2 separate regions of the Homo sapiens genome follow, and region 2 is linked to region 1. A link means that fine-mapping ties the variant in region 1 to the expression of a gene that starts in the linked region. Tissue or cell type: whole blood. Region 1 holds a variant in brackets; the other region holds the start of a gene. All regions are shown on one strand. Distances are between the middles of the regions.

The links. PIP is the estimated chance that this variant, and not a neighbour inherited with it, causes the effect. A credible set is the group of variants that fine-mapping cannot tell apart.
Region 2: QRSL1 starts here. The variant in region 1 is the best candidate, but not a certain one, in a credible set for the expression of QRSL1 in whole blood (TOPMed, PIP 0.90).

What each region holds. Positions count from the first base shown.
Region 1 is chr6:106,522,714-106,534,321 of GRCh38, forward strand. It overlaps CRYBG1 (crystallin beta-gamma domain containing 1), which reads left to right. Exons shown (of 22, transcript NM_001371242.2): 5 at 2,420-2,467; 6 at 2,555-2,673; 7 at 4,592-4,757; 8 at 7,463-7,602. Among named protein-coding and RNA genes, the nearest start is that of RTN4IP1, 100 kb to the right of the region's middle. The variant T/G (reference allele first, on the strand shown) is at 4,689.
Region 2 is chr6:106,627,414-106,635,242 of GRCh38, forward strand. QRSL1 (glutaminyl-tRNA amidotransferase subunit QRSL1) reads left to right here and starts at 2,165. Exons shown (of 11, transcript NM_018292.5): 1 at 2,165-2,292. The coding sequence starts at 2,269. It overlaps RTN4IP1 (reticulon 4 interacting protein 1), which reads right to left and starts at 2,085. Exons shown (of 9, transcript NM_032730.5): 1 at 1,335-2,085. The coding sequence starts at 1,608. RefSeq lists enhancers at 2,167-2,306, 2,337-2,396.

The sequences.
Region 1 (11,608 bases):
AAATACCTTGCACCTTTCCTCGTCTGTACAGGGTACTGCAGCATGGTTCAATGTATTGTATTGGCTTTTACTACAATCCTGTCAGAGAATGTGATGTTGCAAGCTCTTTCAAAATATATGGTTGGGTTTCCAGCAGAGGTGCAGATCCCTTTTTCATGTGATTTCATAAACTTTCATAAAGTTTGGGTTTCAGATGTTTGGTGTTAGGACCCTTTATGTTTAAAAATGATTGAGAACCCCAACGAGCTTTTGTTTGTATGGGTTCTGCCTATCAGAATTTATTATATTATAAATAATTGCTGAGAAAATTGTAAAACACCAGAAAGTAGAAGTGCACACTGCACCAGTGCTCAGAGCAACGATGTCATCACACATCATGGAGCCTTGTACTCCGCTGGACATTTGAGACAGAGATGAAAAAGGCAGGTGACCTCTTCTTATTATGAAAATAGTTTTGACCCCATGGACTACCTGAAAGTATCTTGGAGACCCCCGCAGTGGCCTCTGAACCACATTTTGAGAACCACTGCTATAAACAAATAAGACTGAATCAGCCTATGGTACTCAGAAATCATAAAATTCTAACTATTTCTATTAATAGTTATATAATAGAAATATTAACTATTTCTCTCAAGCACAAAATTTCCACTGGTCCACTTCCCATTCATTACTACTTTGTTCTTTTTAATTGTTCTTAGATCGCTTTCCTTATTTAACTACAGTCTGACAAAGTTGATAACAGAATATACAGTTTCCCTATGAAAATCAAGTCAAATGACATAAAAAGGAAAAATAAAATCTTTATACTTTTTCTAGGCCTTTTTATGATTAAAAAATATGGTCTTTCTTTAGGTCCTGGGCTTTTATTGATTGTATATTCAATCATGAAGGTTTTACCTGAATTTTGTTTTAAATTTTAGGCTTTTTCTTCAGTTTATCTACTTCTAATGTGTATATATACATAAATAGGTATATACCATCTGGCTTCTGATAAGGCTCTAGGGGGGCCCTTATGGCCTTTTTTTTTTTTTTTAGAGTCAGAATCTCGCTCTGTCACCCAAGCTGGAGTGCAGTGGCATGATCTCAGCTCACTGCAACCTCTCTGCCTTCCAGGTTCAAGCGATTTTCATGTCTCAGCCTCCCAAGTAGCTGGGATTATAAGTGAGTGCCACCACGCCCAGCTAATTTATGTATTTTTAGTAGAGACGGGGTTTTGCCATGTTGGCCAGGCTGGTCTCGAACTCCTGACCTCAGGTGATCTGCCCACCTCAGCCTCCCAAAGTGCTGGGATTACAGGTGTGAGGCACTGCGCCCCAGCCTTTTGTGGTCTTCTGGGCATATCACACTCTGGTGTGATGCAAGAGCAGTCAGAGCAAAGGCAGTTCCTAAAATAGGCATCCTGGTCAGCACTGAAAGTAGTTCACGTTTTGTAATATTTTTACATGTATAATTACTATTTTATTATCTTATGCATTTCTGGTTTTACTGGTCTTGTCAGATGGTCTTGAAAATGATTAGTTTTGGAGCCATATTGAAATGTATTTTGTCTATCAAAAAAGCGGGATTAGGCCGGGCACGGTGGCTCTCACCTGTAATCCCAGCACTTTGGGAGGCTGAGGCAGGCGGATCACGAGGTCAAGAGATCGAGACCATCCTAGCCAACATGGTGAAACCCCATCTCTACTAAAAGAAAAATACAAAAATTAGCTGGGCCTGGTGGCACATGCCTGTAGTCCCAGCTACTCGGGAGGCTGAGGCAGGAGAATCACTTGAACCCAGGCGGAGGTTGCAGTGAGCCAAGATGATGCCACTGCACTCCAGCCTGGTGACAGAGCCAGACTCCATCTCAAAAGAAAAAAAAGGGGGATTAAATATACTATGTGCAATGTACATTATGAAATATACCATATATACCATAAACACTTCTATTTAGACTAGTGGTTGTTATATGATTGTAGATTTACTATGAGAAAACAATATTTATATGGATTCAGATAGGGTATGTATATGAACACAAAATTGATTCAGCTCTTTCTAGGTAAGTGATTAATATATTCTAATTTATCTTTATTTGAGATGATACTGATATTATTTGAATTAGAATCTCTTAGCTGAGTTCCTATTCTGTGAACTGACATGAAACATATGTGCCCTGAATTTTCTAGCATTGGTGGAAATAGCCTAGACATTTAAATTAGGAGAAATTGAAATGGCAAATTCAGTTAGAGGTGAAAAAACCTCAATTTAAAAGCATAAACTCAAAGAGTTTTAATACAACTTTAGCATCCATTAGAGTGGAGGTTTCAAAATCGATACAATGTGGGAAAAGTGTGATCTACCTACAGGATCGTGGGTGGAAAAAGAGGATCGTTATGTGAAGTTGTAATTATTTGTTGTGTTTTTGTTCATCTGATTGCAGACACTTAGAGGAAGTGTCCAAAATAAACTCAATCCCCGACCTGGAAAGGTAAGATTATTTTCTGTTTCTAGTCTTGATTCTATTTTGGTCTGACAGAGTACAACAAAGTGTGCTACCACTTTCGTTTTCTTGCAGGTAGTGATATATAGTGAACCCGACGTCTCTGAGAAGTGCATTGAAGTTTTCAGTGACATTCAGGATTGCAGTTCTTGGAGCCTCTCTCCAGTGATACTCATAAAAGTTGTTAGAGGATGGTAAGAATGGCACTTTAAGTTCCTGATGTCAAGTGTTTGAGTTTTACATACTTAATTAACTTTTTAGTCCTCACTACTAGTTTAAAATTATGGCTTTAGCAATGAAAAGCACAGGAAATACTACTCGTGGTAAGATAAGGGATTCATATCTTAACAATGTCATTTTAAATCATGTTTCTGATTATAGCAGTGATATATGTTTATGGGAGAAAAATCAGAACAATACAGTAGAACAAGCTTCTTTTTCCCATGCTTCCCCATAATATTGTTTTGGACTAGTCATATATCAGGGCCCATAACATACTCTTGGTTGATGACCTTTAAATGAGGTTGATAAGAATTGCACTAGTTATGTTGATAGGCCAGATACGACTTTTCAAAAACCTATAAGGAAACTTGAGAACACGTAGGAAAAGGCAAAGTAAAGAAACAATAAGGAAAAAAAATCTATAAGGTAAAACAAAAATAATCTATAAAGAAAGGCATTTTTCTAACTTTTTAATGACAGTTCAATGCAGCACTAACTTAAAATTTAATTTACTTTCCAATATTTCCACAAAAGATTGTTTTGGCTAAGTAAAGAAACTGGTGAAAAAAATAAATATTTTGACAGTTTCTGAAATCATTTTATCAGCTTCATTGCCTCTTGGAGATACACAGGAAGTTGGGTAGAGAAAGGCAGCTTAAAAAAAGAAATCGCTGATCTGGCATAATAGTTATCTTTTGGTGCCTACTTGTAAACTTGTTTGAAGTAAAGAGGGTAGACCTCTGAATGTTTATGGATTTACAAATTCATAAGCTTTTCTTTTGGTCTCCATTTGATTAAATATGCAGCAGCTTTCCTATTAGATTTTTAGGTGTTTTAATATTTTTTCCTATATATCCAACATAGTCATGAGAAAAACAAGATTTGCTTTTATTCTTAAATTTGAAGACAAATGCTATTTTAATTGCTAGAGAATTGGCCACTAATATACAATATATAATAGTGGCAATTTTTTACACAAATTTTGTTTTTATGGAACAGTACTTTTTCCTTTCTTTTGCAACTTTTGTCGGCTTCTTTTTCTTGAAAGCATAAGCATTTACACTGCCATATATTGACATGAGGTTTTTCTTTAGTGTTTGGCTGTTGTTGGGAAGAATATTATTAAAATGCTTTCCATTACCATATCTATAGTCTTTTGTGCCAACATATTCATTGATATGACTGTAATATGTAAGTTAAAGTCTCTCTAAGAGAAATGTTTTCTACACATATAAGGAGACAAAAGGCCAGACATGGTGGCTCATGCCTGTAATTCCAGCACGTTGGGAGGCCGAGGTGGGCAGATCACTTGAGGCCAGGAGTTCGAGATCAGCAGGCCAACATGGGGAAACTCAGTCTCTACTAAAAATACAAAAATCAGCCAGGCTTGGTGGCACATTCCTGTAATCCCAGCTACTAGGGCAGCTGAGGCAGGAGAATTGCTTGAACCAGGGAGGCGGAGGTTGCAGTGAGCCGAGATCGCACCACTGCACTCTAGCCTGGGCAACAGAGCAAGACTCTGTATCCAAAAAAAAAAAAAAAAAAGAGACAAAAAAAAAAAAACCTAGTACAGTAAACATCCATTTATCTGACATATTATCATAAGTCTCTACCACTTGGCAATTACTTAGAACATTAGTAGCTCTATAGCATTCATATAGGTAACTCCAAAGTTCTCTAAGATCCTGATATAGTTCATGAGTTATCAGAGGCTTAATTATACCCAGTAAAATATTAGTGTTAGGGAGAGTTTAAGCTATTTTAATTGCTAGATAATTGGCTGCTAATATTCTATATATATATATAAAATGGCAATTAGCCAGGTTATTTGAGTAATCAAAACCTCTCTCACGAAGACTGACTAATGGTTTTGCTGTGTTTTATTGTTAGTTGGATTTTGTATGAGCAACCAAATTTTGAAGGGCACTCCATCCCCTTAGAAGAAGGAGAATTGGAACTCTCTGGTCTCTGGGGTATAGAAGACATT[T/G]TGGAAAGGCACGAAGAAGCAGAGTCTGATAAGCCAGTGGTGATTGGTTCCATCAGACATGTGGTTCAGGTAGGTTGTGGTAAATATGGATTTTATTTATTCAGCTAATATTTATGGATTCTTACTTTAAGGGAAATGATCATTTTACGAAATATGTGATTGGGAAACATATTTGGTGCCTTATGGATATATTTTCTGTATTTTAAGTATTTGTACACTTTAAATAATTTAAAAAGAAACATAATTGGTTAGATAATTTTTCACAATAAACCCTTTAGGTAGATCTTTTATGCCTGTCCTTCTATTCCCATCTTCCAAATATATTTTACCTGGTAACTTGGTTTAAATGAGTTCTGCCTCTATGAACAGGTTTTTCATTTATTTAGTGTTTTTGTTTGCTGTATGAGTTCTGATTACTTTGAGTGGTTTATAGGAATTCTATTTTGGAAAAATAAATAATCCAAAAATAATTTGGTTGATTAACTCTGGGATTTCATGTGGGTTTAACAAAATATTATTTACTCTATTTGAGGCCACTTTATGGGTGAGGTAAAATTTCTTGGTTTCTTGTTATTTGATGAGGAAAGTGTTGTCAGAGTCTTTCTTTGTGGCTCTTAGGATTTGATGATTCTTTACCTTAAAAATGCAATTAATGATGTCTTCTAAGTAGAAAATTAAAATCCCAAGTTTTAATGGAGACGAGTGTCAAGATGCAATACAGAGAAAAGGAACATTCTTACATGAGAATGAGTAAGGATGAGTAACAGTTTTGGCAGAGGAAAGCATCGCTTACTTCCTGAGTCAACATTTCTGAGTAACTTAGGTGGTAATTGGTATGCTAAATGATTTATCTTTTATTTGTTTTAAGTATATAATACGAGAAGACTAAGTAAGACTTGAGAAACCCTATTTCAAAATGTCCTCATTAGTGGAATATTTTGCCTAGAGTTTTTATTTACTGCTCAAATAATATTGGAAATAAAGCAATGTTTAAAAAGATCATCTGATTCCCACCATCATGAAGTGTCCCCTCCCCTTTTATTTTTTGAATTTTCTACCCTTTGTTGGCCATATTCTAGTCTGCTTTTTCTGCAGTAATAATCATAATACAGGTACAATGCTGTTCCACCCTTCTCACCTAACACTGTGGTTCTCAATCCTTTTTTTCTCTTTATACCACTTTCCTGAAAATCACACTCCCCTTGGTAACATCTTTGTGATTGGCAACTGGGGAAGGTATCAGAATCTGGTGGGGTGAGGATTTGGGTGCATTCAGGAAGATGGGGAAGGGAAACGAGATCTCTTGTTTTGTCTGATAATAGCAGACTTACTGTAGCAAATGCTTTTCATGTTACCACAGGTTTAGGGTTTAGCTGAATATCATATTCCATTGAAATGATACATTATTTATTGTTTAGTACATAAATGAGGTACCATTATTTATTTATTATTTCTTCTTTCAGTGAATCTTAAGGTTGTTTCTAGTTTTTTACTATTATAAGTAATGCCACGAGAATGTTTTTGTGCATTTAATAATTTATAATTTTCTTTTTTTTTTTTTTGAGACAGTCTTGCTCTGTCGCCCAGGCTGGAGTGCAGTGGTGCAATCTCAGCTCACTGCAACTTCTGCCTCCCAGGGGTTCAAGTGATCCTCCTGCCTCAGCCTCCAGAGTAGCTGGGATTACAGGCACATGCCACAACACCTGGCTAATTTTTGTGTTTTTAGTAGAGACGGGGTTTTGCCATATTGGCCAGGCTGCTCTCGAACGCCTGACCTCAGGTGATCTGCCCGCCTAGGCCTCCCAAAGGGCTGAGATTACAGGCATGAGCCACTGTGCCCGGCCAGTAATTTATAATTTTCTAATTTGTTTCCTTGGGGTACATTTTTCTGAATGGTGTCATGTTAAAGGGCTATGATATGTCATGGCTCCCAGTGTGTCATGGATTATATTTTCTTCACAGATCGTGTGCATGGTTTCTTGAAACATAAAACATAAGTCACAGCGTATATTTTCAAGGTTACCTTTTTAGCTCATTAGAGTTGTTCCTTTTGATAATATTTGAAAAGCCTCATCTGAGCTTATTCAAGTGTTAATATTTCTTCTGTCACTCAGTTCACCCAACTCAGCTGCATAGATGAGTTTCAATAAATATTCCATTAACGCTTAGGCACTGGACCAGAAGAGGCCTTTTGAAGACTGTTTGGACCACAGATATGCGGGGCATGGAACAATGACCAAAGTACAGAGATTTGTAAATCACTATGAATGTGTGCTTTTGCTTTTACGACTTAGATCAAACCAATATCATAGAGGTTTACTCAGTCAAGGAGAGTTACCACAAAGCAACAGAGGGCTTATGGACACAAAACAGTGGCTGAGGAAGACTCCAAGAGCAGCCATTCTACAGACTAGAGTCTCTGTGCTTGGATAATTATATCAGAGCAAAGGAACCAAAACCCCAGACCAAAGAGGACCAAGTGAGGATGAGAAAAAGAAATATATTCCAAAACTCAAATAAAATACATTTCTGATGATCTTTGCTTGAATGCAACACTGAGTTATATAACTAAAGCAAGTGTGTCTGCCCCGAAATAGGTGTATTATTAATTCATGGATGAAAACAGGAAAGGGCTAAAATGGCAGGTGCTCTGTGAAATGTGTTTGTAAATTTAAAGCTCATTTTGATTAGTTGTAAGAAGAAGAAGAATGAGCTTACTAGAGAGTGAAATACATGGTGCAATTCTTACTATCTATGCATCTATATTTTTTCAGGATTACAGAGTTAGTCACATTGACTTATTTACTGAACCAGAAGGGTTAGGAATCCTAAGTTCCTACTTTGATGATACTGAAGAAATGCAGGGATTTGGTGTAATGCAGAAGACTTGTTCCATGAAAGTACATTGGGGCACGTAAGTATTTTTTTTTCAAACAAATTTTAATGAAGTTTTTTTGTGAGTGTAGTACTGGAAAAAGAGGACTTAAGATACTCTGACTCTAATTTGTCATCCTGTTAAGTAATTATTAACTGTAAGGTATATTTTTATAAGGCACGTAAAATTCTGATTCTTTTGCACCTATGTTATGATTCATCTGTCTTAAAAACAGTATCGATTTATTATAGGAAATGGGGGGGGATTGAATTTTTTAATGTAAGGCTTTCCTTGTCACAGAGAAATCTGATTTATTCAAAGCTGAGTAGCAGATTATATTTTCATGGTGATTCAGAGGAGGTAATTCAAAGCACATGCCCCTGATATTTCTGGGGGGGGATGGAAGCCAACACACATGGTACTTCCTTGAATATTTTCACACAATGCTGGTTCAAAGCCCCTAGGAGGTTGGTTTCACAAATCACAGGAAACAGCAAGAATATTTTGAAGGAAATGGGAATACCTCAGATAGGGGAGAAATGAGGATAGAAAGTATAGACTGCAATACTGAAGAATGTGGTCTCCAAAGTGAAGCACAAAGCCCCAAGGCATGTGAAAGACATTCACTGAGATGCAGGAAAAAACACTAAAGCTTCTTTCTATTTGATTAAAGTCTCCACCTCTTAAGATTTTATTTTTGTATATGTTTTCTAATATGCATAATGTATTAGTTCAGTGGTAATGTATATAATTTATAAATATTCATATATTCAGAGAATGCTCAAATGTTTTTACTAATGGTTTATACAGTCAAAAAAGTTTACAGCCTGTCCCTAAAGTGGTATGGAGTATCTCTGCAGTGAACAATAAGGCACTCCTTAATCATGCTTTTTGCATTCTATTTATTACTAAAAGCCTTGGTTTGCCATTGTTCATATCTTAGAAAAATAATTTGCTTGTGTAAAAGGTAGGAATAGGATAAATTACAGATCATAGAATCTGATTTTTGATCCTCAGAAATGAGAAACTAAAAACTTCTAGGCAACTTAACAGGAAGTGTGGCTATTGAGAATTGGTAGCAGCTATCCTTGAATAGTTGGAAGGTGGTCATATAGAAGAGATATTAGACTTGCTCTCTGTTATTCCATAGGAGGTCCCAGGAAAAACCAGTAGAAATTAGAGAGATGGATTTTGACTTGACCCAGGGAAGAACTTTCTGATGGTTAATACAGTTAAAATGGAAGTGGGCTGCCTTGTTAGGTAAAGAGTTTCTCATCGCAGGGAGTACTCAGGTAGAGGATGGACAAGAATTTATCCAGAGCTTTGTAGGGAAAGGAAAGTATGAGTTAGGTACCTCCTTTACGACAGTTTGTTCATTTATTTATTTACTTTTAACATTTTGAAATATAAGACACCTAGAAAAAAGTTCACAGAAGGTAAATGTACACTTAAACAAATAAAGTGAGCACCCAAGTAGACACCACTTGAGCCAAGAACTGGAACATTACCAGCACCCCAGAAGCCCGATGGTATTCTTTCCCTATGGCAGCCCGTCTCAGAAAACAACCTTCCTCTCCCAGAAGAGTGAGAAAATAACAAGGGAGGACTATAGTGATGGTTCGTCAATATACAAAGGTGTAGTTACTAGGGCAGAATTTGGGGTGTAGAGAACAATATTAATTTAAATATCTCCTCTTGATGTATAAAGTTATTTTCCAAGGATAGTATACATTTTACTGCTTTTTAAATTATTTTTAATTGACACATAATAATTGCACATATTTATGGGGTACAATGTGAGGTTTTGATACCTGTATACATTGCATAATGATCAAATCAGGGAAGTTAGCAAATCCATCACCTCAAACACGTATTATTTCTTTGTGGTAAGATCATTCAGAATCCTCTCTTCTAGCTATTTTGAAATATAAAATATATTATTGTTAATCATAGTTACCCTACTGTGGAATAGAACACCAGAACTTATTCTATTATATATTTTTACCACATTTTCTTTATTCATTCATCTGTTGATGGACACTCAGGCTGATTCTGTATCTTGGCTATTACAAATAGCACTGCAAGAAACATGCAAGTGCGGGTATCCTTTGACATACTTGATTTCATTTCCTTTGGATATATACTCAGTAGTGAGATTGCAAGATCACACAGGAGTTCTATTTTTAATTTTTTGAGGAGCCTCTATACTGTTTTCCATAATGGCTGTGCTAATTTATATTCCCACCAATAGTGTGGAAGAGTTCCCTTTGCTCCACATCCTCACCAATACTTGTTATATTGTGTCTTTTTGATAATAGCCTTTCTAACTGGAGTGAGGTGGTATCTCATTGTGGTTTTGATTTGCATTTCCCTGATCTTGAGTGATGTTGAACATTTTTTCATATACCTCTTGGCCATTTGTATATCTTCTTTAAATAAATGTACTGTTTTTTGTGTACATTTTGAGTTATATCATTTGGTACCCCGTAGTCCTTGAAAGGCTCTGAAATTTTTAAAGGTGGTTAGTTTAGAAGTAGAAATTAGGAAAGGCTTTTATTTCCTCTGCATACCCTGTCTAAATATGACAAGAAATTGGGACTTTAACAAATATAAACCCAAAAGAGTGTCTATGAGATGTATTAAATATATTCAGTAAATCTGTTAATCAAGCATCTACCATGTGCCAGGTGCTTTTCTAGTCACTGGGAATACAGCAGTGAAGACATAAAATGATGTCCCCATTCTCCTGGAGCTGTCAGTCTAGCAGGAATAAACAACACAAATACATATATAATGTGTCAGATGGCAAAGGCTACAAGAAACATAAATTACAGAGGGGCAGGCATGTTGCTATTTTAGATAGGGTAGCTAGTAAAGGACTCTGGTGACATTTTAAGGAGGGACCGGCAGGAAGTGAGGGAGTCTGCCCTGGAGCTAGCTGAGGGAAGAGGGGCAGGGAGCCTGTCCCAGAGAGGAAGCACACCATTTGCAAAAGCCCTTCTGGGCATGCTTGGGCAATAGCTAAGAGGCCAAGGCGGCTGAAGCTGAGTGAAGTAGGAGGATAGGGATAAGACAGGGCTCAGGTCACATCTGGCCTTTCACGCCTTGGGGAGGAGGATTTAGATTTACTCTACGTGGCATGGAGAATCATTGGCGAATTTTTATCTAACTTGTGTTATTAATAGAAGGATCAGCCTGTCTGTTCGTATAGAAAATAGTCTGTAAAGAGGCAAAGGTGGAAGCCAAGAAACCACGTAGGATGCACTTGCAATCATACAGCCAAGAAGAGATGGTGGCTTAGACGTGCGATGGTGGTGGTGGGAAATGGTCAGATCTTGGATGCATTTTGAAGGTAGAACTAACAGCATTTCTGACAGATTGTGTGTGGGGTATGAGGGGCCAAGACATGCCCAGGGTTTGGAACCCCAACATTTATTGAGACGAAAAAGACTTGGAGGAGCAGGATAGGAGAGAGAGTGAGATTCAGGAGCTCAGTTTTGGACAGGTTAAGGCTGAGATGCCAACTGCAAATTCAAGTAAGTGGGCAAGAAGGTGACTATGTGAGGCTGGAGTTCAGGGGAGAGGCTGGAGGCATAAATTTAGGAGTCACTGGCAAAGAGAATGTATTTAAACCAGGCACAGGACACAGTCCCAAAGGGGAGTGGGTGTAGTTAAGGGAAGAGAAGGCACTTTTGTATTTAGAGACTGGGAAGAAAAGTGGGAATCTAAGCAAAAGAAAATGCCTTCATCTCTTGCTGCCTTTAATTTTTTTACATGAAAGAAGTCTATACACTTTTTTTTAAAGAATTGGTGTCAGGTTGAGAAACACCACTTTCCTTAGAAAAGAATGAAAAAGGCATCTGTTATCATATTTTAATCTCAGTGTCTGGAAGGTGCCATGACTCAGGCTTGGCTATGTTGAAGCACATTAATCTACCTTAAATGATATTTCTTACCTTTGCAGTAAGTTTAGCTTTGCCTCCTGGGTGGTAGTTACCAGCCTGTCACAGCTTACAATTTATGACAGGTTTGTGTCATGGTGAGC
Region 2 (7,829 bases), 100 kb after region 1:
TTGTTATCTTAAGTCAGAACAAAAATATAAAAAGGCATAGAAATAGTGACTGAATGACAACTGCGTATGTGAAGCACTGAAACAGGTTGACAAAGCATGGGATCAATCTTGAAAGAACTTACAATCAAAGGAGATGAAAAAACATGCTGATCATTGAGTAAAACTTACCACTAAAAGACATATCTTATAAAAAACTGAATTCTCTTCAAGCCTAATATAAAAAGAATAAAGGAAAACGGCATGCCCAACTGGTAGTAGCAATTACTACTTCAAAACAAAGAATACAAACGTAGACTTCATGAGACAATCACAGTAAAGTCATTTCAATGCTTTTTTTTTTTTTTTTTTTTTTTTTTTTGAGATGGAGTCTCACTCTATCGGCAGGCTGGAGTGCAAGGGCGCGTTCTTGGCTCACTGCAACCTCCGCCTTCCGGATTCAAGCGATTCTCCTGCCTCAGCCTCCCACCAACACAGTGAAACTCCCGTTTCTATAAAAATACAAAAATTAGCTGGGTGTGGCGGCGCATGTCTGTAGTCCCAGCTACTTGGGAGGCTGAAGCAGGAGAATCGCTTGAACCCGGAAGGCGGAGGTTGCAGTGAGCCAGGAAAGCGCCCTTGCACTCCAGCCTGCCGATAGAGTGAGACTCTGTCTCAAAAACAAACAAAAAACCCCATAAATTCTAAACTGACTAGGAAACAACTATACTTCCGAAGCCTGTGACGGATCTCAGAATACCACAAAGTTCCCTGGACAGAAATTTAGCTACAAACATAGGCAGGGCGCAATGGCTCGTCTGTAATCCCAGCACTTAGGGGGCGGAGGCAGAGGATCGCCTGAGGTCAGGAGTTCGAGACCAGCCTGACCAACATAGTGAAACCCCATCTCTACTAAAAATACAAAAAATTAGCCCGGTGTGGTGGCATGCGCCTGTAATCCCAGCTACTCGGGAGGCTGAGGCAGGAGAAATTGCTTGAACCCAGGATGCGGAGGTTGCAGTGAGCTGAGATCAGGCCACCGCACTCTAGCCTGGGTGACAGAGTGAGACTCAGTCTCAAAAAAAAAAAAGTTAGCTACAGACACAGTTCTCAAGTCTGAACTTACATATTTAAGGACGCATGAAAACAATCAAGCTTATATTTTGTCAATACAAATGGCCAGAAGGATTCCCTGGCCATTGCAATTTCAAAAATTTTGGAAATATTTGCAGAGGTATTGTTAAAAACCTAAATGATTCATTTATGTAAACCAAAGAAGCGTAGTCAATTTTTTAAAACGGCATACCTTATGAAAGTGATTTTTTTAAAAAAGGTAACAATGTCTTTTGAAAACTTACTTCTCATATTAACGTCTATAGGATTTACACTGGCAGCGTGAACTTTGACAATGACTTCATTTGGATAGTGTATGATAGGCATCATCATGTTCTGAGTGAATCGAAGCACTTCATTCTTCCCATATTTATCTATCACCCAAGCAGGCATGACAGTGCTCCTAGGAGAGGTAGTACTAATCCTTCTAACTGAAGGCTTTTGGACAACTTTGCTTCTCCAGAAGCAAACCGCAGTGCATGCATTTCTTCTAAGTACACAAGTCTTCAGAAATTCCATTGTAAACACTGGTTGAACTGCGTGCTCAAATTCAAATACACTTGGACTGGATCAAACTCTCACCCCTGAATTCAGTCAAATTCTGCCAAACCACGGGCTAGTTTCAAAATTAAGCATGCAAAACGGAGCATTCGAAAATGAAGCTAATCTAATGGAGAAACTGAAAGAAGAATACGGAACTGTTATTCCGCTCTTCGCATATGAAATGCTCGAATTAACGTTCCAGTCAGTATTCTGTCCATTCTCCTCCCTCACTTTCACCCCCTCCACTTTAAAAAAAAAAGGGGGGGCGGGGCATTAAAAAGCAGGTGCGCAAACCCCCTAGATCCCTGCCCTGTCCTGGGAGCCCTCGGCGGGACAAGCAGACACCGCTCGCGATCCAACGCCAGAGAATCGAACGCTTGCCGACTGCCGCCGCGACCCTGGCCCGGAATCTCCTTGCCTGCCCGCTCTCCTTAGCCGCCGGGATGGCTTTGCGGCGCCAACCAATCGCCTACAAAGATCATTTCCTCGGGCTGCAATTCAACCAATCCAAGTACTCGGTGTTGAAGGGCTCAGTGACAATTAAAGATGGCTGCGCCCATGTAACATCACTAGCGACCGGTGACCTCTTTTTCCCCCTTGCCTGGCTCCTGTGGTGGCAGGCTGGGCACGAGGACCATGCTGGGCCGGAGCCTCCGAGAAGTGAGTGGAATTGGCCCGCTGAGGCCCCCGGGAGGGCGGAAAGTTTAACGGACTTCGTTGACAAAGAGTCCCTGGGCCTTACCACGCATCTTGGCCCACCTCGCTGCTTCCTCTAGAACTGAGTGGGGGATAAGTACCTTTCGATTCTTCGGGTGTACTCGCCGTACCCATTCAGGAGTTAGGACCTTAGCAGGGAAATCTCTGCACCGCGGATCTGTAGGGTGGTGAAGCGGCTTCTCACCATTAGACATTTGCTCTGGTGTAGGTCGGGATCCGGATGGTCTCGGAGTGGGCTTTGCCAAAGGGGGCTTGCGGGGCCACTTCAGTCTCTCTTCTGTCCCCGACACTTAGCTGCAGTTGTCGCTAAGAAGCCCGGCGAAACTGTAGTTTGCAAAATTCAAATGAGTAATTTTTGGCTTTTTTCAAAGAATTCGTTCTCTAGGATTTACCTACCACTAAGATACCAGTGATTTCCTAACCCGTGTCTCCATGTCCTGGACGTCGTGTTTGAATTCTAGACTGTATTTGTGAATGCTTTCTGGGCAGTTCTTCTAAATGTCACATAAGCACCCTCAAATTCACTTTAATCGGTGTTGAAGTAATCATTGTAACAGGACTTACCTCTCAACCCCCGTCTTAAAAAAGCTCTGGTATTTCTGAATTCTTAATAGACTCTTTTTAATGGCACAACTATTATCTCATTTGCCTTTAGATTCTTCCTCATCTTTCATATCCAATAAATCACTAAGCCCTCTTCATTCTATCTTGCAGATATGGCTGGAATCTGCCCTCTTACGTTATTTCTGCTGTTATAGCTTTAATTCGGGTCTTTTTGCTTCCTGGTTCACGTCACTCAACCTTAGAACTGTCTGCAGGCCCATTGCTATCAGAGTCACATAAAGCACCTGTTGAAACTAAAACTATGCCCCACTCTAGACTTAATTAGAGCTGTGTGGTAAGTTCGGGAGTATGGTTTAATGGAGGCTCCAGGTGATTTCTGGTAAGAAGTAGGCGCTGATGACCTAAACTGCCTTCCATCTTCCTTTTTATTCCACCCTAGAAGTTGTCGTTTTGTTTGTTTCCCAGCTGGCAGCGTGGAATTATAATTATAGATAGCTGTAATATATAATGAGAAATTGAAATCCACAGGCTTTAAATAATAGTTCTTCCCCCAAAATACATTATTATGTTATCATTTTAAATTGCGTCGAATCAAATTTGTTCTTTAAAAAATAAATATGCCCGGCGCGGTGGCTCACGCCTGTAATCCCAGCACTTTGGGAGGCCGAGGCGGGTGGATCACGAGGTCAGGAGATCGAGACCATCCTGGCTAACACGGTGAAACCCCATTTCTACTAAATATACAAAAAATTAGCCGGGCGTAGTGGCGGGCGCCTGTAGTCCCAGCTACTCGGGAGGCTGAGGCAGGAGAATGGCGTGAACCCGGGAGGCGGAGCTTGCAGTGAGCCAAGATCACGCCACTGCACTCCAGCCTGGGCGGCAGAGCAAGACTCCGTCTCAAAAAATAAATAAATAAAATAAAAATAAATAAACAGACAACACCCAAAACTTGTTTTAAAATTAAATACAACCTATAAAAATATGTTATTTCCTTTTTCTGCCTTTTCCACTGTCAATCTAAGTAACAGAAAGAGACTCTAAAGAAAATATTTATTTTGGAGTAGCAATGCAATGGGAATATGTGTAATATTGTAAACTATGTGCCTATTCAAGAAGGTTGAGGCAAGGGATGTTTTTAAAGACAGAATGAGAAGGATTACTTAAATTATTTTGAATCAGTTATCCTTGGCCACAAGGATCAGTCACAAAGGTGGCATCAGTCCAAGGTTGGATGGCCAGTTGCTGGACAGACATTCTTACAGAAGTACTCGTGTGTGTGGAAGGTTGCAATGGCCTTTGTGCAAGGTTGTGTTTTTTGCAGTCTTATGATTGTTTTTAAAAAAAAATTTTAATGGGTACATAGTAGGTGTATGTATTTATGGGGCACATGAGATATTTTGATACAGGCATACAATGCATAATAATCACATCAGAGTAAATGGTGTATCCATCACCTCAAGCATTTATCATTTCTTTGTGTTACAAACGTTCCAGTTATACTCTTTTAGTTATTTTTAAACGTACAATAAACTATTGTTGACTGTAATCACCTGCTGTGCTATCAAATACTGTATCTTATTCATTCTGTCTAACTATATTTTGTACCCATTACCCATCCCCACTTCCCACCCCTACTACTACCCTTTCAGGCCTCTAGTAACCATCATTCTACTCTACCTCCACGAGGTCAATTGTTTTCATTTTTAGCTCCCACAAATAGGTGAGAACATGGGAAGTTTGTCTTTCTGTGCCTGGCTTATTTCACTTAACATAATGCCCTCCAGTTCCATCCATGTTGTTGCAATTGACAAGCTCTCGTTCTTTTTATGGCTGAATAGTACTCCATTGTGTACATGTAGGACATTTTCTCTATCCATTCATCTGTTGGTAGATACTTAGCTTGCTTTCAAATCTTGGCTATTGTGAATAGTGCTGCAATAAACATGAGAGAGCAGATATGTCTTTGCTATGTTGATTTTCTTTCTTTTAGGTGCATATATACGTAGCAGTGGGATTGCTGGATCGTATGGTAGTTCTATTTTTATTTATTTATTTTTAATTATTTTTTTTTTAGAGATGGGGTCTCACTATGTTGGCCAGGTTGGTCTTGAATTCTTGGCTTCAAGCAATCCTCCTCCCTCAGCCTCCCAAAGTGCTAGGATTACAGGTGTGAGCCACTGTGCCCAACCAGTAGTTCTATTTTTAGGTTTTTAAGGCACCTCCATACTATTCTCCATAGTGGCTGTAGTAATTTACATTTCATCCAACTTTTCTCCATCCTCACCAGCATTCATTATTGCCTGTCTTTTGGATAGAAGCTATTTTAACTGGAGTGAGATGATATCTCATTGTAGTTTTGATTTGCAATTCTCTGATGATCAGTGATGTTGAGCACATTTTCATATACCAGTTTGCCATTTATATGTCTTTCTTTTGAGAAATGTCTATTCCAATCTTTTGCCCATTTTTAATTTGATTATTGGATTTTTTCCTGTTGAGTTGTTTGAACTCCTTATATACTTCGGTTATCAATCCCTTGTCAGCTGGAGTGTGATAGTTCTTCTTATCAGGCATTCATGCGTGAGAACCCTCTCTTCTTGACCTTCCTTGGCTCCATTTGTCAGGATTTTAACACAAGTCACTCTATTTTGATTTTGACAACTGTCATAGCTCCTTAAGTGCTACCTTTTTTAGTGCTACTTCTCTCTGGTGTCATTGAGTTAGCCATTGTGAAAAACAACTTTTGCCGCATGGGGGGAGAAAAGAACTATTTAGGAGAGCTGACCCAGGGGAAAATCCAGAGGTTGCCTTGGCATGATTGCTTTTACTTTATCACTCCTTTAACAAATACTGATTAATGCCTAGCATGCAAAATATTTGGTGGTTATTTCCCCAGCTCTAAAACTACCTTCTGTCTACTTTGTATTTTTTCCACATCACTGTACTGTTGCCCTAAATTCTACCAATTAGAGATTAATTAATTCATACAAATTATCTTTTAATTTAATTCTCTTTTAAATATGTACAGATGCCTGGGAAGGTTGAACAATTTTTCCACCCATTGTTGTAAATTATAACAGTTCAAATTTCTTCATAATACCTTAATTGAGATAATCAGTTGAAGAGGGGGAAATTTGCGGGGAATTAGGGAGAAGGGCTGGAAATGATGGCAGCAATTTGGGGGATGTGAGTGGAAGCTTATGGTAACAGGAGTCCTGGGAATAGGCACAAAAAGGAGGTAAAATGCCAAATAGGTAAAATTCCCATTTGTAAATTTTACCCAAGTACATTCAGAAAGGGGGAGGAAATCTCACTTTTACCTTTGTCTTTTGTGGCATGATCCCAGTGTTTCTAGGAGTGAGGCACCAGGCTAATATTATTAATCCTAAAGTTTAAAGAATGATATATTCATTTGGCTTCTTGGAGCTTCAACTTTAGAAAAACTAATCATTGTTCTATAGGGAAATCGATTCTAAATTTTAAACAACTGTTATTCATTCAACTAACATTTAGTGAGTACCTCTGTGTTCCAAGTACTGGGGGGTAGCATTAAAGACGGACAGAAGCTCCTGCTTCCTGAAACCTAACTTTTTTGTGTGGAAACGCAGCCATTAAACACTTTAAAAAAAAAAAAAAGTAAATGATATAATTTCAGGTAGTATGAGTACTATGGAGAAAAATTAAGTAGATCATAGTATGAGAACTAGTTGGGGGAGCTGGACATTTTAGCTAGAGTGGTCAGGGAAGATTTCTCTGATTGAGTGAATAATACTTAATAGAGACCAGAAGGGCATGAAGGGGGAACACTGGGCAGATCTGAGAGAATAGTGTTCCAGGCAGATGGAACAGTAAGTACAAAGACCCTAAAACAAGAGCAAGCTTAACATGTTCAAGGAATAGCAAAAGGGCCAATATGCCTGGAGAGAAGTGAATGAGGAGAGCAATGAGAGAAGAGGTTAGGGAGACAGGTAGGAGCCAAATTGTGGAGAACCTTTGAGGCCACAGTAGGGAGTATGGATTTTATTCCAAGTGTAATGGGAATCTTCTGGAAAGTTTTGAATCTGTGGACATGATCTGAGTTAAAATTTTAAAAGCTCCTTCAGATGACTCTTAAGGGACCATGATCTTTAGAAAAGCAAGTAATAAAGCACAAAGACTGACCGGGTGCAATGGCTCACGCCTTTAAACCCAACACTTTCGGAAGCTGAGGCAGGCTGATTGTCTGAGCTCAGGAGTTCAAGACCAGCCTAGGCAATGTGGCGAACCCTGTCTTTACAAAAAATACAAAAATTAGCTGGGCATGGTGGTGCATGCCTTTAGTCCCAGCTGCTCAGGAGGCTGAGGTGGGAGGATCACTTGAGCCTCGGAGGTTGAGGCTGCAGTGAGGCGAGATCACATCCGTGCACTCCAGGTTTGGCAACAGAGCAAGGCCCTGTCTCAAAAAAAAAAAGCAAGAAAGCATGAAGACCAATTAGAAGCCTGTTGCATTGGCGAGATAATGGGAGTGGATATTGTTTTTTAAGTCAGGGTTTGCAGATGTTTTGGATATGGGGTTTGAGGAAAAGAGAAGAATCAAGGAGGATACTTAGGTTTTGGGCTAGGGCAGTTGGGGAAATGTGACATCAAGATGGGAAAACCTTAAAGGGAACATGTTTGGAAGGGGAAGGTTATCAAGAGTTTTGTTCTGGATGTGTTAATTTTTAGATGCCTCCTAGATATCCAAGTGAAGATATCAGTTAAGCAACTAGATACAAGAGTTCAGAGCTCAGAAAAGAGGCTAGGTAAGAGGATATACATTGGCCAGAGTGTAGAAGATAATTAAAGCTATAGGGCCAGATGAGATTACCTGGGAAGTTGAGTGTAAAAATAGAAGAAGACCTAAAATTCCAACATTTTGGAGGTCAACAATAGGAAGT